Regions from separate parts of the Homo sapiens genome. Here region 2 is linked to region 1. The links come from fine-mapping of genetic effects on plasma protein levels. A gene starts in region 1. The other region holds a variant in brackets. All regions are shown on one strand. Distances are from middle to middle. Region 1 holds the start of HS6ST1 (heparan sulfate 6-O-sulfotransferase 1). Region 2 overlaps HS6ST1 (heparan sulfate 6-O-sulfotransferase 1).

What was found. PIP is the chance, under the fine-mapping model, that this variant and not a neighbour inherited with it causes the effect. Protein levels are from antibody-based Olink assays in UK Biobank. Linkage for the fine-mapping came from a reference panel and not from the study's own genotypes, which makes the PIPs less certain.
Region 2: its variant is fine-mapped to the plasma level of the HS6ST1 protein (UK Biobank, PIP 0.98). The variant lies in the coding sequence of HS6ST1. If it changes the protein, the assay may bind it differently, which can mimic a change of level.

The regions. Positions count from the first base shown.
Region 1 is chr2:128,310,723-128,325,623 of GRCh38, forward strand. It overlaps HS6ST1 (heparan sulfate 6-O-sulfotransferase 1), which reads right to left and starts at 8,146. Exons shown (of 2, transcript NM_004807.3): 1 at 7,315-8,146. The coding sequence starts at 7,841. RefSeq lists enhancers at 1-354, 355-1,336, 6,004-6,153, 12,181-13,113 and silencers at 7,155-7,384, 8,079-8,488, 11,145-11,464, 11,505-11,714.
Region 2 is chr2:128,255,678-128,269,499 of GRCh38, forward strand. It overlaps HS6ST1 (heparan sulfate 6-O-sulfotransferase 1), which reads right to left. Exons shown (of 2, transcript NM_004807.3): 2 at 9,803-13,193. The coding sequence ends at 12,485. Among named protein-coding and RNA genes, the nearest start is that of HS6ST1, 56 kb to the right of the region's middle. RefSeq lists a silencer at 4,978-5,272 and enhancers at 5,170-5,740, 6,312-6,881, 6,896-7,397. The variant C/T (reference allele first, on the strand shown) is at 12,804.

The sequences.
Region 1 (14,901 bases):
ACACTCCTGTGTGGGCGTGTACCTGCCATGTTTTTCCAAAACAACATCCCTTGCAAGCTGGGGACTTGGGACAATGCCCTATCAGGAAAGGGGCACTTTCAGGAAAGGAACAAAGAGATTAGGCCACAAGTCCCACAGTCAGAAAGCAACTGGCCTGCTTGCAGGGGCCCCTCTCCACTCATGCCGTCCCATCTCCACTGCCCCCCCTTGCTGTGAGTGGCGGGGTCTCGCATGATGTGTCTGAAACCCAACTGTGCTTTCTGAGTGCTGCTTCCACTCCACACCCCGCTCATCCTGCAAAACCCTGTGTGTGGGAGGCTTTTCCACTCCCTCAGGGCACTGCAGCCCACACCTCTGGCTACCACCAGCTCACTGTCATTTGGCTGGAGCAACCTCATCCCCTAGGTCTAGGACTATTTTTTTCAGCATAACATACCCCACCCAAACCCAAAACAGACAGCAAATCTTCACAGAGCCAACTGAGTTTCTGAGAAGGCAAGAACAGTCTTAAGAGATGAAAACCTTCTTGCAAACAAAATGTCACCTCACCTATAAATACTGCTGTGGAGTGGGCCTCAAGGAGAGGAGAGCAGGTGCCAGTGAGTGTCCAGGTGGCTGCAGAGAAGTGCCCGAAAAGTGCTGGCAGGGGATGGCCCGAGTCTGCCTCCCGCCTGAATCATGCAGCCCTTCCAGTGGGGCTCCCATCTGACTGGGCCCCACATGCTACCACTCAGTAACTGCTCCCCAGAGCTCGGCTTCTCATGCTCTTCCCGCCTCAAACCCAAAGACCCACCACACGCTACCACCAAGTGGGGATTGAGCCCAGTCCTGCTGCCTCCGTGATGCTTGAGGTCTGACCTAGAAACACCCCACAGTCTTTCATAGAGGGGGTATGCAGCCCCACAAAATGCCACATGGGATGGTGATGGCACCCAGAGAGGGAAGCTGAGGGGTTGGGGAGACTCCTGGGTTTCCCATCTCCTCACCCTCCAGCATTCACTGGGGCAGAGCAAGGACACTGGAGCAGAGGGATGGCCTAGACCCACCTGCACCCACACAGGCTCACAGCACTGCCTCCTGCAGGGCTGATCCTCCCTGGGCCGGTGGTGGCATCGGTGGTGCAGGACCAGAGGAGTACCTGAAAACAGCCCAATCTTATGGGGGAGGTGGCAGAAGGGGTGGCCACACTGCGCCAGGAGCCAAGCACCGCCATGGGCAGTCTCTGCTGCCAGGGGCCGACTCTCAGGCAGCCTTGCCAGCACTACCTTTGCAGAGCCCAGAGCCCAGGCATGATGCCTGTCCTTCTGCTCTGAGTGAAGGCTGCCAGGTGTCTTCCAGTAAACGCAACGACACAGGCCTACATGTGAAACTGCCCATGTCTGCCCAGGTCTCAGAAGCCCTAGTGTTCTACATCTGGCTGGTCTGGGCCAGCGGCAATCGCCCCCACCTGCAGACAGCCTTCCATGCGCATGCAGGGGTTGCTGGGAGCAGAGGGCTGGGTGCGGCATACAGCCTTCAGGACAGACAGACAGATGTCCACATGCTAGCTCCTGGCCCTCCAGGCTGAGGGACTGACACATTCTCCACCTTCTCTGGGGCCTGACTTCCTTGTGTGGAAAATGGGGCTGCTCTTCATATACTTGTCTTGGGGGAGTGTTGGGTCCAAACAAGATGACCCATTCCAAGTGCCTGCTAAGTGTGCAGGGGACAAGAGTCACCCTGCCAGCCTCTCTACATGCCCCCATGGCTTGTCACGCCTGTTCCTCATAGAGGCGGAATTCAGTCCCGCAAAATGCCACATGGGATGGTGATGGGCACCCAGAGAGGGTGCACCCCAGGCCCCTGGGAGCTGCACCCCTCTCTCAGCAGGGGTGAAACTCAGCCACCTGTGAGCAGGTGGCGACATGTGGGTGACTGGGCATGGCTGCTCCCAAGTGCCCTACATAGATGGGCCACCCCAAGGGTGTACTCATTGGGCAAGGCTTTGCAATAAAAACCATAAGATTAGCACTTTTCGGTGATTTAAGAGAATAAATTTAAAAAAAAATTCACAATAGGCTGGTGCGGTGGCTCACACCTGTCATCCCAGCACTTTGGCAGGCGAAGTCGGGCAGATCACCTGAGGTCCCGAGTTCGAGACTAGCCTGGCCAACATGGTGAAACCCCGTCTTTACTAAAAATATAAAAAAAATTAGCCAAGTGTAGTGACGGGCACCTGTAATCCCAGCTACGTGGGAGGCTGAGGTCGGACAATCGCTTGAAACTGGTAGGCAGAGGTTGCAGTGAGCTGAGATCGTGCCATCATTGTCCAGACTGCACCGGACAGAGTGAGACTCCATCTCAAAAAAAAAATTCACATGCTATTCAGTACCAATGAGTGTGCCACTGACATGGGTGCTCACAGACCACAGGTGGGAGCATACCAGGAGTGGGTGTTCTGAAGAGGAAGGTAACATTTGTACCAAGAGCAGTAAAGACATTCAGACTATTCAACTCAGAAATTCCACTCCTAGGAATCTCCAGAGGAAATCAGAGCTATGCAGAACATTTACACACAAGGAGCAGTCCTGCAGCAGTCCCCACAGAGTACAGAATGAGCAACCTGCGCACTCACCCACTGCCAACCAGCGGTGGCACACTCAGAGCGGAGCAGCTGCAGCCACTCAAATATTAAGTTTTTAATGACAACAGACAACATTTATGGTGAAATTTATATGATGGCTTCAATTACAGTGGAAAAACCATGCATGGGGAATGGATGATTTTCCTTTTCTCCCTCTGCCTCATACTTTCCTCCCACTCATCTACCAAACAATCATTATAACCACAACAAAGCGGGGTGTGAGAGCAAAAGCCTCCAACTCCCCGAAGGACGACAAGACCAGGCCCCTTCTCCTCCTCCCTCCTGGGCCCTGGAGGATGCCAGACCCAAGGTGGCCACTCCCCCGTGTGGCAGCCAGAACTCCTGCTGAGAAAGAAACCTGGATTCCCTGGCCCTAGGGACCAAGGTGGGCACTGCACTCTCTGGGACTGGGCTCTCTGATCCAGGAGCAGGAGTCCCCAGGCCCCAGTTTTATGCGTGAAGTGCCTAGGACAGGAAGCTGTGGCTTGAAGACCACCAGAGCAGCATGGCAGAAATGATCCCCCAAGCTAGAGGACCATCTAAAACGATCCTGTCACCCAACCATTCGTAAGTTTGCCTTATCATGTGTTTGCTTAAAAAAAAAAAAAAAGGATTTTTTATCTATTTTTAGTGAAAATCTAGGAGCATCTTGACCACAGATTCCCTTCTCATCTTAACCAAAGGCCTCTCTAGGCAATGTAGGCACAGTGACACCCCCAGCCTGGTCCCCAGGTCCTGTTCATTGGCCCCAGTCACATGCTCTGGGTAACATCTGTCCCCATCACAGCAGATGAGGGTTTCTCCCTTGATCTCAAAGAAGAAAGCGATTATGAAGGTAAGGTGGAAACTGTCGCATGCCACAGAAACGAAGGCTCTCATCCAAGCCCACCCCTACCTGGTCTGCCCCACCAAGGAGTCCCCAGGTTCTCAGGGAACACCATGACACTCAAGACTGACTCCGTGAACCTGAGTCACAGGGAAAGGGCAGGGACAGAGCCCAGATCCTGCAGAGTCCAGGAAAAAAAAATTCCCATGGTGCCAGCATGAGGGCAGTGCCAAGGTGGCACGGTGTCAGATGGGACAGCAGTCGAGGCGCCTAAGGCAACAGGGGAGCCTAGGAACAGAAAGCCAGGGAAGATTTCCTGGAGGAAGGGGCATCTGAGCAGACTGAAGGGAGGGGAGGAGCAGGCAGAAAAGTGGGAGAGGAGAGCAGGCACACCAGGTGGACGGCACACAGGTCCAGCACCAGGCGGATTTCTGGAGTCTGAGAAGGCTTCAGGATCACGGAGGGCAGGTCAAAGGCGAGGCTGCGGGCTCCTGCGCCATCCCTCCAGCAAGGAAGCACTGGTCTCTGCAGGGCAACGTCACAGAGGCTGCGAGCCCACTAAGGGCTCCAGAGAGGCCCTGGTGCAGAGAGGATGTGAGCTGGTCCCGGGTTCCCGGCCAAGGTGGCCCAGATGCCACACTTGGGCTCCAGATGCCCTCCGTGGCCCCAAATGAAGCCCACATGATTTCAGGGACATTTCCAGGGTGGCCCGGGCAAGACCTTGACCATGCCTGTTCTTGCGTTGCCTTCAGGCAGACGGGAAGAGGAAGGAGGGAGGTTCTGGCTCTGGAGCACCATCTGGACCCTCTGAGTGACAGCGGAGTGTGGGGTGCTGAGACATTCTAACCGAGTGGTCCCTGGAATGGCTGGCCATTTGGCTGCTGCCTGGGGATGGCCACACCTCTTTAAGGCCAGCCAGCAAACGTCCTTCCAGTGGAGTCTTACAAGCACCCTGGCTGATGTCGGCAGATGAGGCAGCCCCCATGGTGAACACAGGACTAAACAGGGACCCGCCAATGCTCTGCTCACTCTTGTTCCTTTCTACCAAGGCAGCCAAGCACTAACAGCCACTAGAAGTTCCAAACCATATTCCAGGAAGACATCAAAAACCTGTCCATCTCCATGGATGCCCAGCTCAGAGCAGCCCAGGCTGATACTGTGCAATGGGGAGGCTGGCAGCCGGGAAGAGCCCCACCTCTCTTACGCGCACCACAGGCCCACTGAGACCCTCCCAAACCGCAGCAGGGAATGGGAGGGGCTTGGTGGAGAGGTTCCAGGAGCCAGCCTTGGGCAGGGAGGCAGGCAGAGATAGAAGGAAAAGAGGGTCTCAGTCCCCAGAGAACACGGAGATGGCAGTGCAGAGCCAGAGTGAAGACATCGCAGGAGGGCCAGGGTGACACCTGAGTCTCCTGACACCAAGCCCACTTAACATGAGGCACCCCAGCAGGGATGGGCACTGCCCCTGATAGAGAGTTGCTGGGTCCCTGGGCAGATGGGGGAAGTGCATCCCAACCGCCACAGCAGAGCAGCTTAGCCCAGCTCCAGCCTGGGCCAGAAGACTCAGGTGGCGGGGCAGCGCTCAGCAGGTGGACCTCAGTGCAGCTTGGCCCTGCGAGCACAAAGGCAAGATTACCTTGGCCTCCTGATGAAGCTCATTAAAAAAGCAATCTACCTAGTGCCTGCAACAGAACTGAAGGGAGTGGAGGCGGAGAAGAGGGACTCGGAGGGTGGGGTGCTGTCACCTGCCCGGTAGCACAACCCACTTCCAGAGTGGGTGGCAGAGGGGGCCTCCTGACGGCCCTGGAAGCCCCTCCCAACCCTGGCGCATGCTGCTGAGCTAGCAATTTCCAGGCTGGCAGCCCACCTCCGCCAGAGGCATCTGCGTTTTCCATTCTTGCTCCACACATGCTCCCTGGGCAGGGGGAGCCGGGCCTTCCTGGTGTAGCACCTGGGGCCCCATCGGCCCCACCTGGTCCTCCCACTCTCATGGACAAACTCCAGAGAAAGGAGGCCAAGGCTCTTCACCCTGGGGACCCACAGGCGTGCGGGGCTGCAGGAAGAGCATCCTGGTTGCAATCTAGGGCTGAGGTGGCCTCTGCTGAGCAGGCTTGTTTCAAAAGCTCCGGCTTCTTGGCGGCCCGAAGCTTCCACGCAATCCTCTTAGGCTGCCGAGCTAAGTCCCTCTGGCAAAGGGGGTGACCCCCATCCTTGCACCCCCCACAGGTAGGGAGGCGTCTGTTGGTATTGGTCAGTGACCAACTCTGGGAGCCTACTGCTCTGACTGGTGGAAGGGTGGGTGGGGGCATGGCTGTGGTCCCAGGCACAGCTGAGCCTAGCACAGAGAAGCTGGACCAGGGTTAGGGGGGCCCTGCAGCAGGAACGTGCATCTGTGCAGAGCAGACTAAGTGCTGGGCCGGAAGCAATCCTTCAGGGGCCCTAGACAGGCAGCTCTGTGACCGCCAAGTGTAGAATGTGGCTGTAAGAGGCTCAGAACATCACCTCCCAGGCTGGGAGCTGCAGTGTGTGTGTGTGTGTGGGTGTGTGTGTGTACAGTTGGGGGAGGGGGGAGAAAGAAAAGTGGGAAGATGCCCCTCCAACTCTAGGACCCCAATTTCCTGACAGCCTGAGAAAGACCACAGAGCAAGGATTGAGGTCTGTGCAGGGGAGCAGTGTCTCGGACTCTGCTCAGCTCCAGGCTGGCTGGACCTTCCAGGCTCCCCAGGCACACCTGAGAGCCTACAGCCTCTGGACCCAAGAGTGCCAGCCAACACGCCTACAACCGCCCAGCCTCCTACCACCAGCCTGTCTGCAAATTCAGTCCTAAGGCAAATTTGGAAGAGAAACAAAAGGCAGACAAGAAGCCCTGCTCCTGGCCCTTCCCAGCCCAGACTTTGGGGAGAAAGGCCCCGCAGGGCATCCCTGCAGGACGAATGGGCACCAACAGGAACAGGAGGAAAATAACCCCAACTTTAACTGCTGGAAACCCAGCAGCACCCCAGGTTCCCCTACAAACGGCTTCCCAGAAGAGCTGCCCCGGCACCCCTCCCATGCTCTGTGTCCTCACGCAGCTCAGCTCTGACATGGGGCTGGGGGACCCCAGAGAAGGGGTGTGGCAGCACAGGTTCCCTGGACCAGCTCAACTACCCCCAACCTGGCTGGTAGCTTCCTGGGGAAGGTGGTCCCCCATCGGGTGGCTTTTGTTCCTCTCTCCAGGCAAGCCTGTGCCTGGAAGAATTCGGCTGGCAGGCCCCACTGGGAGGACAGGCGGTACTGCCTCCTCCCCGCCCCCAGCCCCAGGTCAACAGGGCCTTTGTTCTACCTGCACACACCGGCAGGCAGGCGGGCAGAGCCAGCCCCCTTCCCTGGCAGCTCCCCCACCCTCTGAAGGCAGGCACTCCAGGCACAGGGGCGGCACCTCACTACTCTCACTTCCACTTTTGGGACCACAGCACCGAAGCGGCACGGGGAAGCCAACACTCCAGGTAGGCCACGCACACACCCAGAAGCCCGCGTCCCCAAGTCCGGCGGGCCAGACCTCACGGCGCACAGCAGGTAAGGTGGCCCGAGGGCAGCGGGCGGGGACCCTGGAGAAAACCCGGGCGCTGCGCAGTCAAGCCGGCAGTAGGGCAGCACAAGGCAAGGAAGAGAGTGAGAGCGAGGTCAGAAAGCGCGGTGACAGCCGGCTCACCCAGAGGAGCTGGGAGCCTCGGGCGCTCGGCAGGTCGGGAGGGGTGCCGGCGAGTGGGGGCCCCCAAGAGGGCAGAAGGGGGTAGGGAAGGCAGGGCCGACCCAGTACAGCACGGCGGGCATACGGCCCGGCCTCGGGGGCGCAGCTGCGCGAGGATCCCGCCGCCCGGGCGCTCACCTGGGCGTGCGCAGCGCGGCGGAGTCGCGGCGGTCCAGCACGCCGGGCACGCAGTTGGTGAGCTCGGTCCAGTCGGCGTGCAGCCCGCAGCTCCAGCCGGTGGAGAAGCGGGAGAAGAGCCAAGTCTCGCGGCGGTTGGGCCGGTAGCAGGTGCACTTCTTCTGGCCGGGCCGGCAGTCGCACGGCACCTCGAGGCGTACGTTCTGCACGAGGTGGCGGCCGAAGGTGGTGCCGCCCGTCTTCTGGATGTGCAGGAAGACGATCACGTCGTCGCCCTTCATGTCGAAGCGCAGCGAGCGCTCCAGCTCGCGGACCGGGAAGTAGTACTTCTTCTCGTAGTGGGGGTCGGGTGTGGGGAACAGGTCCAGGTCGTCGGGCGGCGCGCGGCCGCCGGGCGCGCCCAGGCTCAGTCCTGGGCCCGCGTACTGGTACAAGATGAGCATGAAGCACACCGAGCCCGCCACCACCAGCACGAACTTGCTGGCGCGCTCAACCATGGTCCTGCCGCCGGCGCGCCGCCGCCGCATGTGTCACCATCGCCGGGGCCCGGGCGCGGGGCGCGGGGCCTGGGAGGGCAGGAGGCGCGGGCGCAGCTGCCTCCGCCGCCGCCCGCGCTCCGGCCCGGCCCGGCTACTCGGCGCCCAGGCCGCCCGCAGCGGCGCGGGCCCCGACCCTCCGCGGTGCCATGGCTGCTCCCCGCCCGGCCCCGGCTCCCCGGGCCCGACGCCCGACTCCGCTCCCGCTCGGCCCCGCTCCCGGCCCCGGCCAGCACAGCGCTCTCCGCGCCCCCAGCACCAGCCCGCTCCGCTCCACTCCGCGCCGAGAACGCTCTGCGCCGCCCCGCGCGCCGCCGCGTCTCCGCAGTCCGCCGCCGCCGCCCCGCCCCGGTCCGCCCCTGGCCCGCCCCCGTGGCGTCTCTTGCCGTCGCCGCCCGCGCCGATCCTCGGCCCCGCCTCCGGAGTGCCGGGGTTCGCCGCGGGTGCTGGGCGCGGGACCTGGGTCTGCTGCGGTGGCGAGGCCGCTAGCAGGCGGGCAGCCAGCGACTGGGAAGTGATTCCGCCCTCAGGGGAGTGGGGGACCAACCGGCAGTGCGGAGCCGAGGCGTGGGAGGCTCTCCTGGCGGGGGCCGCGGTGAGGGGGCGCGGCGGCTGGCGCTTCTGGAGCCTGGGTCCGTACCCCCTCCTCCCCAAGTCCCAGCCGCCCACGTCCCCGCAGCCCGCGCGGGAGGAAAGGCCTTGACCTTGCACGCTGGGGCGCTGAAGTTAGACGCTAGCCTACTGGGCTGCACTTCCAGGGACCAGGGCGGCGGGGGCCGCCCACCACCAGGACCGAGAGGGAAAGCGAGGCTTTCCTTTCCTGCTCGACCCCCTCACCCCTGCGGCTGGCTTTGGGACAGTGCCCCGCAGCCCCGCATTGAAGAGATGTTGGGCTGTCTGCAGAGGCCTGCGGAGCGGCTTTATGGCTTCCTCCTTGTTTGAAAAGAATATCAGACGAGGTGCATTTTCCCCCATCCATGTTTATTATACTCCAATGAAAGAGTTATAAAACATTGAGCCAATTCTTAAGAATCGTGAGTGCCCACCAAATATTCTGTCTTTCGTGGGTTGGTTGGAGAGTCCAGCGGCCCGGGCCCAACCTGGCTGCGGAGGGCTCGCTCCACGTTGGCTCGTGTGTGGGCCGGGTGGTGCGGGCTCCTCACTCGCCGCCGCCCAGCCTGGCAAGCACGCGCGGCATTCGTGGGGCGGGGGGTCCCGCCAGGTGCCCACTCACACTGCTTGGGCTCTGGCAGTACTCGGAGGCTGCAGCCCGTCGGAAGCGCAGGAGTGGGGCTGGGACCTGCCAGGATCTCACAGCTGCAGGGCCGGCCGCGGTGGGCCCTAGTGTGTTGGTTCAGGCCAGCGAGGGCTCTGGGAGCGAGTCTGGCTGCCAGGCGTGGGCTCCCAGTGTCCACGTCAAGCCCTGCCGGGGACGGGGTGGGGGGGGAGGCGGGGTGGTGCCCTGCCTTCCGTTCTGTTAGGGACCGGAAGCGATCATGGGGTGTCAATTATGCCTCAGTAAAGCTGTTAAACGTAGACAACATCACACCAGAAAGCCCTCCTGGAAGCAAACCCAGAGAGCTGGAAAAACCAACACCCCAAACCCAGCTGAGCGGGCGGCATGCATTTTCCAAAGGGACCGCAAGAATATCCGCTGTGGACAGGCGGGTGCAGAACCCTCAACACAGCCCAGCGCACCCTGGAGTCCATGGTGTGGGGTCCTCAGTGGGACCTAGGGCCCCAAAGCCCCTGCTCATCTTGTAGGCTGCTTTAAAACTGTCCCTGGCCCGAGGGTCCTGGGGGCAGCTTGGACAAGCTTCTCCAGAAGTGACTCATTCCTATAGGAGTGGGGGTGCAGTCCCCATGGGACACAGGTGGGGCCGCCCTGCAGTGTGCTTGGACCTGCCTGCAGCCCCTTGACGCAGTCTGTGCCTGAGCCCTGGGGAGCCTTCCTGTGTGGCCTAGGGGAGCACAGCTGCCCCGGGTCCACCCCCCAGATGTCCTTACCCAGATAAGGATCCTCGTGCTACATCATAATTAAGGCTGCTCTTTTGGAGACCTGCTGGGTGCCAGGCATTGTAGAGGTGTCATTTCCAATTCCATCAGCAAATCTGCGGGGGTAGGCTGTGATATCCATTTACAGAAGAGAAAACTGAGGTTCAAAGGGGTTAAGACCCTGGTTCCAAGGTCAACCACTCTCACCCCATGAGAGTCAGCAGAGCTGGGATCCTGATTCCTGCTGTGAGCCCCAGAACCCTCCCCTTCCCCACCTCTGCACTTGCCCCAGCTCCCTAGGCCAGGGATGAGAGCGTCTACAGGGGCCACTCCTGAGAGCCTGGTGACCGTCACTGCCACCAAGGGGGAACGTGGGCCCAGAGTGTTCAAGGGAAAGCTGGAGCAGCTCCGAAGGCCAACGAAGCCATCGGTACTTGGGCCATGGCTCCACCCTGTGATGATCTCACTGTCCCAAGGGGGAAACTGAGGCCCAGGCAGGGACGAAGTGCCTGTGATAAGGTCCCACCCTTGAATGGGAGCCAGAGCAGCCTGACCCATGGAGCAACATCTCCCAGAACAAGCTATTTAATCCAACTTCATACCTGCCACACTGGCTGATGGGAAGCACTCACATTAGCCAGGAAGCCCTTTCTTTCTAGAATTCTTTTAAGAGGAGGGAAATCTGCCTGGCTGGCTACAGGACTTTGCTCAGTCTTCCACTTTGATTGAAGCCCTGCACAGGCACCTGAGACCCTAAGGCTGTAGGTGAGTTTCTGGGCTCTGAAAGTCAAGTCAGATGAGCCACCCATCAATCAGTGGACACTTGAGCCGAGTGGAAGGCAGCTCGAGCCCTCGTTGGCGGGGCAGCTTGCATCACGCTACTCCCCACCACTTCCCGCTACTCCCCGCGATGAGTCCTCAGTGTCATGTCTTGGAAAATGGATAGAAACGCACAGTCTGGGGCTGGCGTGGGGTTCCAGGAGGTCAGCGGACACAGCCAGGGTCTCAGGAGGCGCGCTCTGCGCGCTGTTTCCTTTCTTCCCTGGGTGATCTCCTGCGTGGCCAAGGTTTGCCCCAGCCCCGAGAGTGCATATGAGCTAAGTGTTTGCTAGGGGCAGCTTCTGGCCCTGACTGCTTGTGGGGTCCAAGGAAAAGCACTGGCAGCTCTTCTGCTCAGTGGCTTTGTCCCCTGAAGATCCACTTCACCAATTCTTTAATGCGTGATCTCTGACTTAATGGCAAAGAAAAGTAAAAGAACACGGCTTAGTGGCAGGCTGTGATGATCCCAGAAGAGGCATTAACATTCGGCTTCAGGAATGAAGCCTCATTCCCGGCCCACCGTGCGGTCTCAGAGTCTGAGAACCACGAGATCAACAGCGGCGCCCCCTCCCGGCGCACAGTCCCGCGGACGGCCGCGCGGGGGCAGCACGCGGCCCGGCCCCCGAGCGCCCGCGGTTGACTTTGCAAAAAATTGGGGGATTTTCCACACTCGCTTCCCTCGTCGTTCGTCCGGCGGCCGCCCATTGTTGTTTGCCAAGGGGTGGAGGAGGGCAGTCGTGTCTGTCCTCAGAGCCTCCCGTGGGGCTGGCCCCGCTGCCCACGCGGGGCAGAGAGAGGGGTTTCGTTTGGGGACAAACTTTTAGAGGGGACTCCGGCTCGCGCGGACCCGCGGGGCCCGGCCCCGGCCCCGACCCCGACCCGGCGGCAGGCTTGGGGCGCCGGGCTGCGCGCCGTGGACGCCACCTTCTCCGAGGTCGCCAGGCCCCGTCCGCAGCCGCCTCCTCCAGGGAGCCCGCGGCCCCTTTGCCGCCCAGCGGCCCCGTGCCGGGCTCCTCCCCCAGCACCGCGGGGCGCCTGGGCTCCCAGGCAGCCCGCAGACGCGGCAGGTCTTCCCAGGACCCGAGGGACGCGCTCCGGCCGCTGCCCGGGGACAGCAGGGGTCCTGCGGTTCGGTTCGAGGACCGCGCTGGAAGAGGCCCGGGGCTTCGGAAGGGCCATTCCCCTCCCTCCACGCCCGCCCAGGGCCTCGCTGTTCTTTGTGCCCTTTCTCTAGGCCCTCCAGGCCCGCTTCAGTCCTTAGGGGAAGAGGGTAGGATAAACAGAAGAGGAGAACCTGAGCAATTCGTAGGGGCAGCGTGGTCCTGGGCTTCCCCGGCCCTTGCCCGCCCCCCCCGCCCTGCTGGCTCGGTGACCTCCCCCTGGCTGGCCCCCTGCCCTCGCGTGTGACGTGGGGTTGTTGGCAAGTGGGGGGCTTGGACTGCTGCCTGGCCGGGATTCGGAGTCTGTCCAGTGGAGCCCACCCTCCTCCCCGGGCAGCGGGACTGTGGGCAGGCCTGGCGGGTTCTGCCAGCTTGGGAGGCAGGACAGGGACCTGGTAACGTTGCCCCAAGGGCATCGTCCTGGTTCTTCTGCTTGAAACTTCCCAAGGGACATGTCTTTAGACGACTAGGGTGGAGGCGGGATCACAGCCTGGATGGGGTGGGGGGTGACTGCTCGCAGCTTCCGGTGGCCAGTGGGTCTCCTCCCAGATGGCTGTCATTCACTGCCCAGAGGGGTTCCGACTCGGCCGGGTCGGGGGAGCCACCAGAGAGGGCACTGAGCAGCTTGACAAGCTCCACTGTTGGGGATGTTCCCTGGGGGTGGGGTGGGGTGGATGGCGGCTCTTTTGAGGGTGAAATGTTCTAGTCCGAGAAAAGTCACTCAACCATGGGGTGCTTGCTGCTCCCACCCCAGCTGCCTAAGCCACCAGGGGCCGGGGCACAGGTGGAAGAAGGTGGCCTCAGTCCTGGGCCCTGATGCCTAGAAGGGCATGGTCAGTGCCCTCCAGGCAGCCTTGCCTGATCGTTGGGGCTCGGGACCAGCTCCCACTCTGCTCCACTCTCTGCTGGCTGGACTGGCCACCCCTCTGTCTGTGGAATTCACTTGGTGCCAGTGCCCTTCCTGGAGGATGATGGCCGGCCCCCATGCTCCTCGTCACCAGGTCCTGCTCTTTTTACCTCCATTCATCGCCACTGCTATTAAAGAGTCGCCCTCTTGCTAGATTACAGTTGGCTTGACAAGTCAGTTGACTGTTCTGATGGAAGCTTCTTCTTGGGCAGGGCCCCAGGGCCTTGGTGGGACCCGGGCCCTGGGTGGGGGCACAGAGGTGGGACACAATGATGGCTTTATGGAGCAGGCCCTGCCCGCCCCTGTGGCACTGTGGGGAGGGGGCTCACCTGTCCCTAGGCCAGGGCTCAGCACGGCAGCGGTAAACCTGGCTGGCCTTGACACTTCCTGGAATCTCTCAGTGACCACGTTTCTTTTTGCACCAAATAGCTATGGTTCTTGCTGTTCGTTTCTCTCCCTGCCCTCCTTTAAGAAGGAGAGTTCGTGGGAATTAGACACTCAGGGTTGGGGGAGGGTAACCTTGGCTCCTGGTGGGAGGAGTCTGCGTCCTTCTCTGGGCCCAGGGCCTATGGGGCAGCAACAGCATCTCCTCTATTCTCAGAGCATCCAGGGACAGGGTCACACCATGGGTGTGTGGTACACCAGGTCGTCCACCTGGCTGAAGGCCTGGGCTGGTGACAAGTGCTGTGGTGCTGTTCAGGCCAGCAGAAAAGAGGGAGGCACATTTCTGTCAGCAGACGGGATGGGGTATGGCTCACACCTGCTGGGCTGGAGGCTGTGCTCCACCCAGGGCCTCAGGCTGTGTCTTTGACAACAATAATCACCCTATGGGCAAGGTCTGCGTGCTGAGCCCTTGTCAGTCACATCTCTTATAATCCAACAGCAGCTCTGTGGGCCTCTCCTTACAGATGGGGAGGCTGAGCCCCAGGGACATGAGGCCACTTGCCAAGGTCACAGAGCCAGTGGGTGCTCAGCTGAGGCCGCGAGGCTGGGAGAGGCACCCCTCAGGTAAGGGGGCTGGAGAAGGGAGTCCACACCAATGCCACCCACGTCTATACCGTCGTGACTGCCATGCAGTCTTGACCAGCCTTGGGCCGGGTGAGGGCCTCCTGGTACGTGTTTTGCCCTTGACTTTGGCTTTTGGGTGACTGGGGTTGGGACACTCCTCCTACCCTCAGGCTGGTCCCTGGAGGGACCACCTGGGCTGGGGGCCAAGGAGGAAGGTCTCAGCCTCAGTTGTAGGAAAACAAAGTTAAACATTATCATTAGGAGTAAAGGTGCTATGTTCACACCCCAGCTCTGTCTAACCAGCTGTGTGGCCTTCACCAAGTTACTTAACCTCTCTGAGCCTTGGTTTCCTCATCTGTAAAGTGAGGATAATAATGGGACCTACTTCATAGGGTCATGGTAAGCAATAAGCAAGCAAACGCTTATTCCACAGCCCTGTCTACGCCAAGGGCTAGGTATTCCTACTGTCGATTTGTGGGAAGCACCCTATCAGCATCCGCATATTCAAAACCAGCTACTCGGCTTCTCCTGTGTGCCAGGCCCTCCTGTGCGCTGGCCTCCTCTGTGCATGATTGTATTCAGTGCTCTCGGCTGCCCTATGGGCATAATTCCCTCATTTCTCAGGTCAGGGAGCTGAGGCTGAGCAGAGGATAGTGACTTGGCCAAGGGGACAGTGTCCCCTCCCTGGTGAGAGCCTTGGTTGAGGGTCCTCTCCACCTTCCCATTTCCCGACTCCCAGCCCTTGGAGAAACCCAAGTCCTGGGCTCCTGGGCAGAGCCTAGCCCCCAGCCCCCAGCCCGGCCTGGACCACGTCCTCCTGCCGGGTGGGGTTGTAAGGTGCCCTGCTGCTGGGCTGTTCCTCCTGTCCTAGGGTCTTGACGCGCTTACCTTCCTCTTCCATCTTTCCACGCCCTCCTTTGACTCTATCTCTGGTGCCATTTCCAGGGTTTGTAGCTGAGCTTAGAAGAGGGGAGCTGGAGAAATGGGTCTATACCTCCTTGTCCAGACCAGAACTCAATCATAGCTTTTTCTTTTTATCTGCTCCCATCTTCTTGAGAGCCCATCCCACTGTGTGGCAGAGAAAACCTGTATTACTTCCATCCTGTAATCCCAGTCTGATCCAATAATTGTTAGGCTCTATTTGATTTCTTGACTTTTGTTT
Region 2 (13,822 bases), 56 kb before region 1:
GTGGGCCTATAACAAGATCTTACATTAATGCCATCCAAATCCTGGAAGGAGAGAAGAAAGAGGGTGGAGCTGGCAAAGTATGCGATGAAATAATGGCTGAAAACTTGTCAAATTTGGCAAGAGACATAAACTTATGTATTCAAGAAGCTGAATGAATGCCCAACAGGATAAGTTCAGAGTAATCCACTCCAACATACATCATAATTAAATTCCTGAAAATGAAAGATAAAAAAAATCTTAATAAGTAGCCAGAGAAAACAATACATTACCCCTAGAGGAAGAAACAACTGAAATGACAGTGTATTTCTCATCAGAAACCATGGAAGCCAGGAGAAAGTGGCATAATTTTTTTTCAAGTGCTGAAAGAAAGGAATTGTCAACCCAAAATCTCATTACTACCCCCGCTCCCCAAATCTTTCAGGAATAAACCAAGACATTCTCAGATGAAGGAAAACCAAGAGAGGTGGTCACGAGCACACCTACCCTAAAAGAGTGGCTAAAGGAAAGTCTCTAAACATGAAAGGAAACAATAAAATAAGGAACCCTGAAACACCAGGAAGGAAGAAAGAACATGGTAAGCGGAAATATGGGTGACTACAATAGGCTTTTCTCTTCTTGAGTTTTCCAAATTGTATCTGATGGTTGAAGCAAAAATTGTAACATTGATGTGGTTCTAAGTGTATGGAGAAGAAGTATTTATTAAGACAATTATAAATGGGGGAGAAAAAAGGGATATAAAAAAGGGAGGTAAGGTTTCTATACTTTATGCAAACTGGTAAAATGATGACACTAGTAGACCGTGATAAATTCTGTATACTGATGTAATACTAGAGCACCCACTAAAAAAGCTATATCTAGAGATACACTCAAAAACACTACAGATAAATGAAAATAGAATTCTAAAGAATTGTTCAGCCAAACCACACCAAGGCAAGAAAAAGAAAATAGAAAAATGAAAAAAGAGAGGACAAACAGAAAACAAAATATGAAGTGTTAGACTTAAGCCCTACCTAACATGTCAATAATTATATTAAGTGTAAGCGGTGTAAATACACGAATTAAAAGACAAAAAAAAATGGATTAAAAAACATGCCCCAATTCTATGTTGCTTACAAGCAACTAACTTCAAATAAAACAATATAGGCTGGCCAGGTGTGGTAGCTTACACCTGTAATCACAGCACTTTGGGAGGCTGAGGCAGAAGGATTGCTTGAGGCCAGGGGTTTGAGACCAGCCTTGGCAATATGGTGAAACCCCATCTCTACAAAAAATGCAAAAATTAGCCAAGTGTAGCAGCATGTGCCTGTGGTCCCACGTACTTGGGAGGCTGAGGTGGGAGGCTGAGGTGGGAGGATCACTTGAGCCCTGGAGGTAGAGGCTGCAGTGAGCTATGATTGTGCCACTGCACTCCAGCCTGGGCGAGAAAACGAGACCATGTCTCAAAAAGCAAAAAACCAACCAAAGAAAACCAACCAACCAAACAAAAAAACCCCAAAACCAACAACAACAAAACAATATAGGCAAGTTGAGAGTAAAAGGATGAAAAATGATATATCATGTGAAGATTAATCAAAAGAAAGCAGGAGTGACAATATTAATATCAGAAGGCAAACTTCAGAGCAAAGACAATTACCAGACATAGTGTGGGACAGTATATAATGCTAAACTGGTCAAAATCCACCAGGAAGGCATTGTAATTTTAAATGTGTATGCACCAGACAAGACACTTACAAAATATGTGAAACAAAACTGAGAAAAGAGAAATAGATAAATCCACAATTATAGTTAGAATCTTTAATATTCCTCTCTCAAAAATTGATAGAACAGCTAGACAGAAATTGGCAAGGATATAGAAGAATTCAACAATGAACAGACTTAATTGGCATTTGTAAAACACTCCACACAACAACAGCAGTATATATACCTTCTTTCCAAGTGTCCATGGAATATATACCAAGACAGACCATAGACGGGGTGATAAATCTCAACAAGTTTAAAATAATTGAAATCATACAGAGCATGTTCTCTGACCACAATGGAATAAAACTAGAAATCAATAACGGAAAGATAACAGAAAAATCTCCCAACATTTGGGAACTAAACAATGTCATTCTAAGTATTCCATGAGTTAAAGAGGAAGCCTTAAAGTGAAATTTAAACACTGAACTAAGAATAAAAATGTAACATTAAAATTTATAGAAGGCAGCTTAAGCAGTGTTGAGAGGCAAATGTACGGCAAGAAATGTTTCCATTAGAGAAGAGGAAAAGATTCAAAACAAGAATCTAAACTCCCGGACCAGGCGCGGTGGCTTACGCCTGTAATCCCAGCACTTTGGGAGGCCAAGGTGGGTGGATCACCTGAGGTCAGGGGTTCAAGACCAGCCTGGCCAACATAGCCAAACTTTATCTCTACTAAAAATACCAAAAAAAAAAAAAAAATTACCTGGGCTTGGTAGTGCGCCTGTAATCCCAGCTACTTGGGAGGCTGAGGCACGAGAATTGCTTGAACCCAGGTGGTGGAGGCTGCAGAGAGCCAAGATCATGCCACAGCACTCCAGCCTGGGGGCAGACCAAGACTCCATCTGAAAAAAATAAAAATCTTAAATAAGAAATCCTGGGCAGTGATCTGATTGGTTCTGCTTGTGTCATGTGCCACAAGAAGGCCACAGGGTCGGCCGGGAGGCAGGGCCCTTTCCACCAAGGTGTCCCCCTCAGCATTGCTGGCTCAGTGGACGTCCCCTCACCCAGGCAGCGCTGTGTGCAGTGGGGCTGTGGCAGCTGGTCTTGGGGGCTCTTGTGAAAAGGGACAAAACAGATGTGTGGGGGAACAGAGATGTGTTCCCCAGGGGAACCAGGACTGGTGTCACCATTGCTCCATGATTAATCCAGCAACATGGTGTGGAACAGCTTAAAGCCCGTGTCCCTCGGCTCCCCTGACTTCATGGCACCTGGCCACCCAGGAGGTGCCAACCAGCCTGGTCCTCTGTCCATGTCCTAGGAGTGCTTGGACCTGACTGTGGGTGCCAGGTCCCTTCCTGTTTCGGGAGCTGGTAGCCTGAGGTAGTCCAGGCTTCTGCACTGAACTCACAGGCAGGCTTGTTCAAATTATGACTTTATTTTGAGACACATAACCACACAGGAAAGTCCAAAGAACAACATGTATCCTTAGTATGTATTTATGCTTTATTATATGTATTTATATTGTTAATATATACTATTGTTATATAAGATATATACACATTTATATAAGATTCAAATATTTATACATATTAATAGATTTATAAATTTATAAATTTTTATATATAAATGTACCTATCACTCAGAGGTGATGATTGTTCTTCTTGTCTTATTTTCTAATCAAAATATGTAAAGTGTTACAGATAAAGTTGATGTTCCCTTATTCCTCCAGCCTGAGAAGTCCCCATTTTGCAATTTTGAGAAAATTCCTGTCATGAATTTGTGTTTATCTTCCCTTCCATTTTGCTTTTGTTTTTATTTCCAGCTATTTATGTTTTGAATGGGTAATTCATGCATGTTTCATTGTCTTCATCTTTCCTTTCCTTTCTTTCTTTCTTTCTTTTTTTCTTTCTTTCTCTCTTTCTCTCTCTTTTCTTTTCCTTCTCCTCCCCCTCCCCTCCCGTTCTTTTCCCTTTCTTTCTTTTCTGTGAGACAGGGTCTCATTCTGTTGCCCAGGCTGGAATGAAGTGGCTTGATCTCGGCTCACGACAACCTCCAACTCCTCAGCTCAATTGATACTCCCGCCTCAGCCTCCCAAGCAGCTGGGATTACAGGCATGCAGCACCACTGCTGTCTAATCTTATTTTATTTTTTTGTAGAGACAAGGTCTTGCTATGTTGCCCAGATTGGTCTGGAACTCTTGACTTCAAGCAATCCTCCCGCCTCAGCCTCCCAAAGTGCAGGGATTATAGGTGTGAGCCACTGCATTCGGCCTCATTCACATGTTTCAAAAATCAAAAGGTACAAAAGGAAAAAGCGCCTTTCCCCTCTCTGGGCCTTTTAACACTTCCACATAAATGAAGCCAGGAACAGCAGCAGTGTCTTGAGTAGTTGGTGGAAAGAAGGTGTTGTTACATGGGCTGCAGCCTCCAGCTATGCTCTTTGCAGGAATTTGATCTTTAGTGGCCGGACCATTGTTAGCATTAGGTTCAGCTGAGAGTGACAGAAACCCCAAGCAACAGTGGCCTTAACAAGGTACACATTTCTTTCTTTCTTTCTTTTTTTTTTTTAGACGGAGTTTCACTCTGTTACCCAGCCTGGAGTGCAGTGGTGCAATCTCGGCTTACTGCAACCTCTGCCTCCTGAGTTCAAGCAATTCTCCTGCCTCAGCCTCCTGAGTAGCTGGGACTACAGGTGCCCACTACCACGCCCAGCTAATTTTTGTAGTTTTAGTAGAGACGGGGTTTTACCATATTGGTCAGGTTCTTAACTCCTGACCTCAGGTGATCCACCTGCCTTGGCCTCCCAAAGTGCTGGGATTACAGATGTGAGCCACTGCACCCGGCCAGAACACACTTATTTCTATTTTACATGGATAAAGTCTTAAGGTAGGCATCCCAAAGCTATTAGGGTGGTTCCACAATCATCAAGGACCTATCTTGTTGCTCGACCACCCTCACCACATGGCATCTACTTCATGGTCCAACATGGCTGCTTGAGCTCCAGCCATTACATCCTCATTGTAGCCATTCAGTAGGAGAAAGGGAGGAAGTTGCTTCTGTTTCAGGATTGTCTCCCAAAGCTGCAAGGAACATTTCCTCTTGCAAACTGTTGGCCACAGGGTGTAGTGACAGCACATGTCATTGTAAAGGGGGCTGGGAAGTGTAGTCTTGATTCTGGCTTGCTGTGTCACCGCTGATATGTAGTGGTTCTACTACTAAGGAAGGAGAGGAGAACAACTACCAAGGCACAGCTAGCAGGCTCTGCCACGATGCCTGAGTTTCAGATCTTCCAGGTAGAAAAACCCCTGCCCTCATGGAGTGCCCGCTGGAAAGGGACCGACTTCAGGCCACTTCCCGAGCGGCACTTCTCGGCAGATCCCAGAAGCAGCAGCCAGGCTGTGCAGGGCCGCTTCCTAAGCAAGGGCGTGAGTCACACAAGCGGCCTTTGTTAGCTCAGCCAGCTCTCCTGGAAGTCCTTCTCCCAGAGCCGAGGGCCCCTTCCAGCTCTTGCTGTGCCTGAGGCATCATCAGGCGGTGCTGCCCGGAGAGGACGCTGTGCAGCAGTGGGCCCACCCGCTCAGCCCTCACGAGCAACGTTGCCTGGTGCTCCCCGGGTTGGGACCCGGGCCTTCTCGGCTTCTGGGGCTGGGCGGGCACCGCAGGGAACAAAGAAGCATTCCTGAGCCTGAGCCACACGGCTCCAGGCTGACTCCCTGGAGTCTTGGAGAGGCTTGTCTTGAATGCCTGGCTTTTTGTTTGAGAAAGAAAAGTGTTTTCCAAAGTCCCCAGGCTTCCTCTTGCATAGAAATCACAGGGCTCCGAGGAGCCACAGAGCAGGGTGGGAGGACAGGGCAGTCAGGACGCCCTGTCGCAGGGGACAGTGAGAAGGTGCAAGGGGTGGGGAAGTCTCGGGGCACAGGTGAAAGGGAAGACACCCCACCTCAGCCCTCCATGGCTGTGGCCTCTGCTGGGACCGGGCGCTGGGAGATGGGCTGTGGCGCCCACCTGGAATCCTGCGAGGGGCGTCTGGCAGGCCTGGCTGGGTGCAGTGCAGTAGACACGGCAGTGGGCGCTCAGACACGGTTGGGGTGCGAGGGGGACCTGGGGCTGAGGTGGGGGCTCAGGGCAGGGCATCCATTAGAGGGGACAGACTGGGCCCCAGAAGGGGTCTCTGTGTCTCGCCCGAGCCAAGAGACTAGACTCTGAGTTCCTGCCGCCCTGGACACCCCTGCAGTGGAGCTGCTGAAGGCAGAAGCTGGCGGTCCTGGCGAGACCAATGATCCCTCTACAAGGTGGGGTGAGGGGGACCATGTGTGAGCGCCCTGTCCCTGCTAGGGGACGAGTGGCTTAACAGGATGTAAGTAGTTTCTTTAAAGAGGCCACGTTTTGGGCAAGTCTGGGCAGTGCTGAATGAATTCAGACCCTCCTCTGGGTCTGCCCCAGGAGCCCAAGTCCCCCCTGAAGCCCGAGGCCCGGGGCTGAGCTGGGAGTGTTGGTGCAGACAGAGCTGGAGGCCAGTGAAAGGCAGCAGGGAGCAGGGCCGGCAGGAGGGAGGCAGACAGGTGTCCTCTCAGCGTGGGGCTGGGAGCAGGATGGCAGGGCCGGGCAGGGCTGCATGGAAAACGGTCATGGCCCTTTGGGGGAAAGAAAGGGGAGAGAGAGGGACAGTGTGTGGGTGTGCCCACAGGAGAGGCTGGGCCCACATGGTTTTGCTGGGCAGCGGCAAGGCAGTGGGTGGGGCCAGGATTCCGTGCTTTCAACAAGCCCCCAGGTGGCTCATTTGTGGTCAGTGTTTTGTCCGCCTTTGTGGGCAGGTGTGGGGCCAGGCCTGGCTCCCCCGATGCAGCCAGATCCTCACAGCAGCCTTTCCATTTCTTTTTTTTATTTTTTTGAGACGAAGTCTGTTGCCAGGCTGGAGTGCAGTGACGTGATCTTGGCTCACTGCAACCTCCGCCTCCTGGGTTCAAGTGATCTCCTGCCTCAGCCTCCCGAGTAGCTGGTATGACAGGTGCCCGCCACCACTCCTGGCTAATTTTTAATATTTTTAGTAGAGGTGGGGTTTTGCCATGTTGGCCAGGCTGGTTTCGAACTCCTGGCCTCAGATGACCCGCCTGCCTCGGCCTCCCAAAGTGCTGATATTACAGGCGTGAGCCACCACACCTGGCCCAGCCTTCCCATTTCACAGAGAAGGAAATGGAGGCACAGGAGCAAACAGCAGCCAGTGGTCCACTTGGAACCCAAGACCTCATCTGACAAAGCGACTCCTGCAGGTTTCTCTGCTGCTGCTGCTACATGTCAGGGGACCCAGACCCAGGCTCTCCCCGCCAGGGGTGTCCTTGGAGCCCTGAGGTGAGGCCCTCCTAGGAAGGTGTCCTCATGTCATGAATACACTGTGTGCCCTCCGAGTCCTCCTAGGCTGGAAGCTCCCCGAGTCCAGGTGTACACTCCCGGGAGAGGACTTAGGGCTCCCACCTTTGCGAGGGTGGCCTGAGGATGGGTTCCTCTCTGTGCCACAATGAAGGGGACCAGGGGCCCCAAGCCAGGCACCTAGACCACGTCTAGGTAGGGTTAGTTGGGGCCCAGCTTCCCCAAGGAAGAGAACCCAGCGCTGTGTGCAAAGGTGCCCCCAGCTGAACAGGGTGTGAGGACTGATACTGGCCTGATGGCTTTGGCATGAAGCCCAAGGGGAGCAGTGGGGAGCAGGCCTAACAGGCCCATCCAGGGACAGGGCCGTGGCTGGCCATGGCTGGAGCAACTGGTGTGAAGACAGAACGCCGGGGCAGGAGGGATGAGGCATATGGCGCTGGCCACGAGGCTGGGTGGTAGAGGAGCTGCCTTTGTCCAAACCCACAGGCCCGGGAGCAAGGGCAGATGTGGGTTTCCCTGGCAGGATAGAAGGGGGCAGGGGACCTCGGAGGATCGGGTGAGCCTGACGCTCACAGTGGGGACTCTGTGGCAGTGGGCAGGAAGTGGGGATGAGAGCTGGGCAGGGGGCAGGCCTGAGCCTCCTGAGTCTTTGGCTCAGGTGGACTTCATTCATTTATTTATTTATTGAGACAGAGACTTGCTCTGTTGCCCAGGCTGGAGTACAATGGCATGATCTCCGCTCACTGCAACCTCTGCCACCTGGGTTCAAGCGATTCTCCTGCCTCAGCCTCTCCAGTAGCTAGGATTACAGGCGCATGCCACCACGCCCGACTATATATTTTTGGTTAGAGACAGGGTTTTACCATGTTGGCCAGGCTGGTCTCGAACTCCTGACCTCAAGTGATCTGCCTGCCTCGGCCTCCCAAAGTGCTGGGATTACAGGCGTGAGCCACCGCACCTGGCCTCAGGTGGACTTTAATAAAGTGGCCTTCGGCCAGGTAACAGAACAAGACTCTGTCTTTAAAAACAAAAAAAGGTGGCCTTCAACTCTAAAGAGAAGCAGGAAGAGGAAAACCCCCATTCTGGGTGAGGTATTTTCAGGTCTGATTTCACCTTTGATCATGACACTGGCCCTACAGAGTCCAGTGGTACTATCAGAAGGTGGAGGAAGCTTCCATCTTGGCTCCCCCGAGGGAGAAGCCAGGCTGAGGGCTGGTCCACACCCCAAATAAACCTCCGCATGAAGTGTCCAGGAAGGACTCGGGAGTTCCTCTTGGCGTCTGGCCTCTGCTCCTCCCTTCCGCACTCTACCTAGGCATGAGCAGGTGTTGACGTGGAGTCTGAGACTGGGGTTTTAAGAAGGCAGCTACGTTCTGACTCCTGCCCTACTTGTGCCGTGACCCTCCCAGAAACACCTTGATGACCTTTGTCACTGGGATGGTGGCAGGTAGAAGCCGTGACCCTCCCAGAAACACCCTGGTGACCTTTGTCACTGGGATGGTGGCAGGTATGAGCTGGCAGGTGACCACTATGGCTGGGTTTCCCCAGGGGCTGAGTGGGGAGGCTGGACTTCCCTCATCTGGGGAACAGAGCCACAGGACACCTGGGCTGATGGAAGGTGCCTCACCCGAGGGCCTTCCTACCCAATTTCACCGAATCTGACCACTAGGAAACTGACATCTGTAGTTTTTTTTCTTTTTTTTCTTTTTTTTTTTTTTAGGAATCTTGCTCTGTTGCCCAGGCTGGAGTGCAGTGGCGCAATCTCAGCTCACTGCAAGCTCTGCCTCCCGGGTTCATGCCATTCTCCTGCCTCAGCCTCCTGAGTAGCTGAGGCTACAGGTGCCCGCCACCAAGCCCGGCTAATTTTTTGTATTTTTAGTAGAGACGGGGTTTCACCGCGTTAGCCAGGATGGTCTCGATCTCCTGACCTCGTGATCCGCCCGCCTCAGCCTCCCCAAGTGCTGGGATTACAGGTGTGAGCCACCACGCCCGGCCAACATCAGCAGACCTTTTAAGACAACTGGTCTCTACTAGTCAAATATGTCAATCCTAAGAAAGACGGAAAAAAGAAGGGGTAGCTGGGACCCTCTCCTCCATTCAAGGAGACAGGAGAGGCACATGGGGCACCGTGTGGTCCTGGGGCTACAAAATGCTCTGAAGACATCTCTAGGACAACCAGAAGATCTGGATATTGGAAAATACTGTATTGTTATAAAATCTGGGGGGGGGGCTGGGATAACAGGGTTGAGTTTTGTGGCAGAACGTCCTTAGGAGACACGAGCTGATGGATTTAGGAGTGCAGTATTCTGATGATCACAACCTACTTTCAGATGTTTCAGAAAAGCGCGCGTGTGTGCGTGTATGAGAAAGTGTGGGCACAGGATAAGAGAAGGTGAAAAATTTAGGCCAAGAGCATGTGGGTGTCCATGAACTATTCCTCCACTCTCTTTGTCATTTGAAATCTTTCAAAATTTCCAAAGACAGGGAGGGAAGAGGTTAATGAGAATGTAACTCAGTGGCACCTGCCTCCCTCTCAACTGGTGTCATCTTCCCAAATACTATCACTAATGATTAATAAACGGTTACTCTTTATGGTGATGACAAAGTCCCATTTTTTCTTTCAGAATGCCTTACTTAATGGGACTTTCCTCACTGAGCCTCCTGCACCTGTGCAAAGCACCCCGCCCTTGGGACGTGGTGTGAGACCCCACTGGGAGGGGCAGCTATGCCCGCAGAGACCACAGCACACCCGCCACTCCTTGTCAGGGTTTATTTCATCAGCTAACATTCATTCTCGACCTAGACAAAAACAATTAGATGATTATGACTTGCTTTTCCATCATCAACTCATTTTTTTGTATGAATAACCAAAAAATTTCTTCAACACTTTTTTTTAAGAAGAAGCTATAAATAAATAAAGCTTTAAACAATCCTGGGTTCAAGTTAAACAGTTCCAGTTCCCGAAAAGTTCACAGCCTTGTTTTGTGGGCAGTTCTGCTGTTCCTGGCTTCCCCTTCCAGGAGGGGACGTTTGCAGGTCTGGGGGTCCTGGTGACTAAGCTGTTAGCTCCACTCCCTGCCTGTTTCCGTCCTCACAGCCCTGGGAGGGCCCCGGTGGACAGAGTCCTTACAATTTAGGAGATGCTGCTGGCAAAGGAACTGTTGACCCAAAGCAGGTGGCCTGAATGGGAAGTGCCAGGCTGGACACTTGGGGGCTGAGGGCACTGCCAGCTGCCGCCGCCTCTGGACACCTCAGCCCGGCGCTGGCCCGAGAGGAGACTGCTTTCCAAATGCAGCGAAGAGACTGAGACAAGACCCGTGCTTCCGTGTGAGTTGGGATGCGGGGCATAAGTTAACACATATTCCAATATGTACAAAACAACCTGCGCTCAGGCCCGCGCACCCAGGAAGCCCATGGTGAAGGTGAGGTCACCTTGAGCCAGGCCTCTGGCTGGGTGTCCACCTCCTGCCGGGAAGCCAAGGTGCCCCACGTGGCTTGTGCAAGACCTCACAATCCCCTGAACGTGTTCCTCCTCCTCCAAGGAGTGCACCCACCCCCATGTTGAGTGTCCGAGCAGATTCCCATTGACCCTGACCTCCCTTTGAAAGAACCACACCACTAAATCCCCTTGGCACTCACTTCCTTAGTGTGATGCATCCACCCAGGGAGGTGGCCCTGCGCGGCGCTGGCACGCTGTCCACCCTGCCCTGTTGACCATCCTGTCCTTGGACCCCAAAGTAAAATGGGGCCAGTGTAGGAGACCTGAGGGTGGGGCCCTTATGCCAGACCTCCAGGGGTAGCGACCTCACCTGACCCCAGCTTCGGCTTCCTGTGCTGCAGAAGGCGCTTGCTCCCAAGCCCGTGGTGACCCACGTCTCCACCCCATGGTGTGGCAACTGTGGTGGCTGAGTGGAAGCTGGGGCAGGAGAGAGGACCCCCACCAACCCCAGCCAGGTGGCCTGCAGAGCCCACTGCCCTACCTCTGAGTCAGCCTGCGGCCTGAGCACACCAATCTACTCTCTGGGGGATCCAGGGTGCCTGTGTGGGCCCTCCTAGAGACACCAGCTTGGCCTCCTAGGGCATAAGGAATGGGGACAGGGCACAGGGCACGTGCTTACAACGGATATGCAACATGGCTTTTGGTAGGGCCATTGCAGCCAGTGGGGAAACCTGCGCGGCTGCTGGGAACAGAGCATGGCCAGCCTTTTGCCAGGGGGTGGGGAGCATGGGGAAATGCAAGGAGAGCCAGGGTGGGGAGGGCTGAGTGTCTGTTGTCAGGGAGGCCACCTACAGCTGTTTTGCCAAGGCTAGTTGAGAATCTGAAAGCTCGAGTCCCAGTTCCTGGCCATACAGAGCCACTGTGGTCCGAGGGTACGGCTCCTGGGCAGGGGCTATGGTCCCATGCTCCAGCCGATGGAAGCCTGATGAACTTAATCCGTACGCTGGTGGGAGCAGTGGTATTTGAGCTCTTGAGTATGTGTTTCGGTGATGGGGCTGGGGCAGCCTGCTAGCAAATCCCAGTGGGTCAGAAAGGAGAACAGAGGCAGGGGAGCCCTCGGTCCCCAGCCCTTCCAGTCTGAGCCAGGCCTGCCTGGATGGTCACCTCCAAGGGCCAGCCGCGGACTCACGCACAAGTGGCAGCATCCCTGGCCAAAGCCTCCCCACTCCTGGGCTGCCAGTTGGCCCGAGGAAGGCCGGCAATGCAGCTCGGGCCTACTACCCAAACCCCTCCTTGGTCTGAGGACTGTAGGGAGTGGGTGGGGCCTGAACATCAGCTTTGGCCTCCTGACCCAAAGCATGAAGCAGGACCATGGGCCAGAGAGGGGAGCAGGCTTCCTGGGGGCTGGACTCGAGTCTTCTCTGCCTCAGATGGGGTGGGCCCTGACTTTGAGGGAGCTACAGATGGGTGAGCTGGGGGCTCCCCAGGCCTCGGGGCATTGGGGGCAGCCAGAAGAGGAGGGGCTATGGGATGGCCTGGAGCTGGGGCAGTTGCCAGAAGCTGGTCTCACTCCTAGTAGCCCGGACAGAGGAGCTAAGAGCGAGTGCTGTGTGCATAGTTGGTGAGGGACACACTCCCGGCCTGGCAGGTCCACTTTCCGCTGTCCTCGTCTCTTGCGCAAACCTTCAGTTTTTGCGATAAATCCAAGGAGGCCAGGAGAGCAGCTCCAGGCACAACACCTGCTCTGGAGGCCCTGCCCTGACCATGGCATCCTTCGAGCACGCTTTCCTCTGACCCACTGGGCTGCACCTGTTGATTTCTCAAGCCCCCATCCCTGCCCAGCCCCACTACATCCCTGCTCTGTTTTTTTTCAGGACGCAGCTACCTCTGTGGAGCAGGTTTGGGATGCTCATCCCTTGACAGTCTTGGGTGGACCTGTCGTCTGTCCTGTTTTATCCCCCACACCCCCCAAGAGGCCTCCCCGTGGCCACCACCGCCACTACCACTTCTCAATGATGTGGCTCATGTAGTCCTCGGTGGGCACGCGGCCCGGCTCGTCGGCATCCTCCCGCGGCAGTGCCTCCTTGGCCCGGTGCAGCAGACGCTCCTCGCGGCTCCTCAGGCGCTGCTCCCTGCGCTCCAGCTGCCGCTTGTACTGGTAGCGCTGCTGGAAGAGGTCCTTGGCGTAGTCGTACAGCTGCATGTCCAGGTCGTTGAGCTCCTCGATGCGCCGGATGGTGTCTTCATCCACCTCCACGCCGCCCGCCCGCGTGCTATTGTACTGCATGAAGGGCCGGATGAACTTGAGGTTGAACGTC[C/T]GCTCGAACAGGTACTGCGTCTTGCGCTGGAACTCGGTCAGGCCGAAGAAGGCCATGCCCCGCAGGTTCTTCTTGGCGCTCTCGAGCAGCAGCTGGGCCCGCTTGCCCTCGGGGATGAAGGACAGGTTGTAGCAGCCCACCAGGCTCAGGTCGGCCAGCATGCGCACCTGGCGGTTGTTGGCCAGGTTGTACGGGCAGTCCATGAACTCCTGTAGCGTGCAGCCCGACCAGTCCGTGCCCTCGTAGCAGGGCGGCAGCTCCTCAGGCGTGGGCGTGCGCCCATCACACATATGCAACGACGTCTTCCACGTGGCACCCCTCTGCACATGCCGCCACTCGCTCAGGTAGCGGGACACGGGGTCTCGTAGCAGGGTGATGTAGTAGAACTTCCTGCAAGGAGACGGGGAGAGGAGGTGAGGGCTGTGACGCAGCATGAGGGGGGCTACCAGGGCTGCTCTGAGTCAAAGTCCCCACTACAGGAGTTTGGGCTTCGCCTCTAATGCCAACCAACTCCTGCACTTAGCTCTCAGTCGTTTCAAAACCCGGTATCAGAGATGCCAAGGAGCATGCCACGGTCACATGGCTACCCAGGATGACCACCACAGTGCCCTGCAGCGCCTGGCCTGGCTCCTCTGGAGGGACAACCTGACTTTTTCCTGCTGGTGGGTGGAGCCACCAATACCGCATCCAGAGAAGTCGCAGAGCCACAGCCGCCTGAGGCCAGCAGTCTTCACCAGCTGTTTACAGCCTGGGCATGGTGCCACCCAAAGAGCCACTCAGCAGGAACAGAAGGTGGGCAGGGGCCAGCGAGGGTCACCTCCAGTCCCAGTCCCAGGGTCCTGCCAAGGCCTGGTGGTGGTTGGGGGGGGGGTGCCCAGCGGACCAGCCAGCCCAGGACCCCAGAGGAAGCCATGACGTATACACCAACTCTACTTGCTGGGTTGTCCCCCAAGACACCAACGCATTGCACAGTATGTAACGGTGCGTGCACAAGGGAGAAACGACCCAAGGAAGACTCC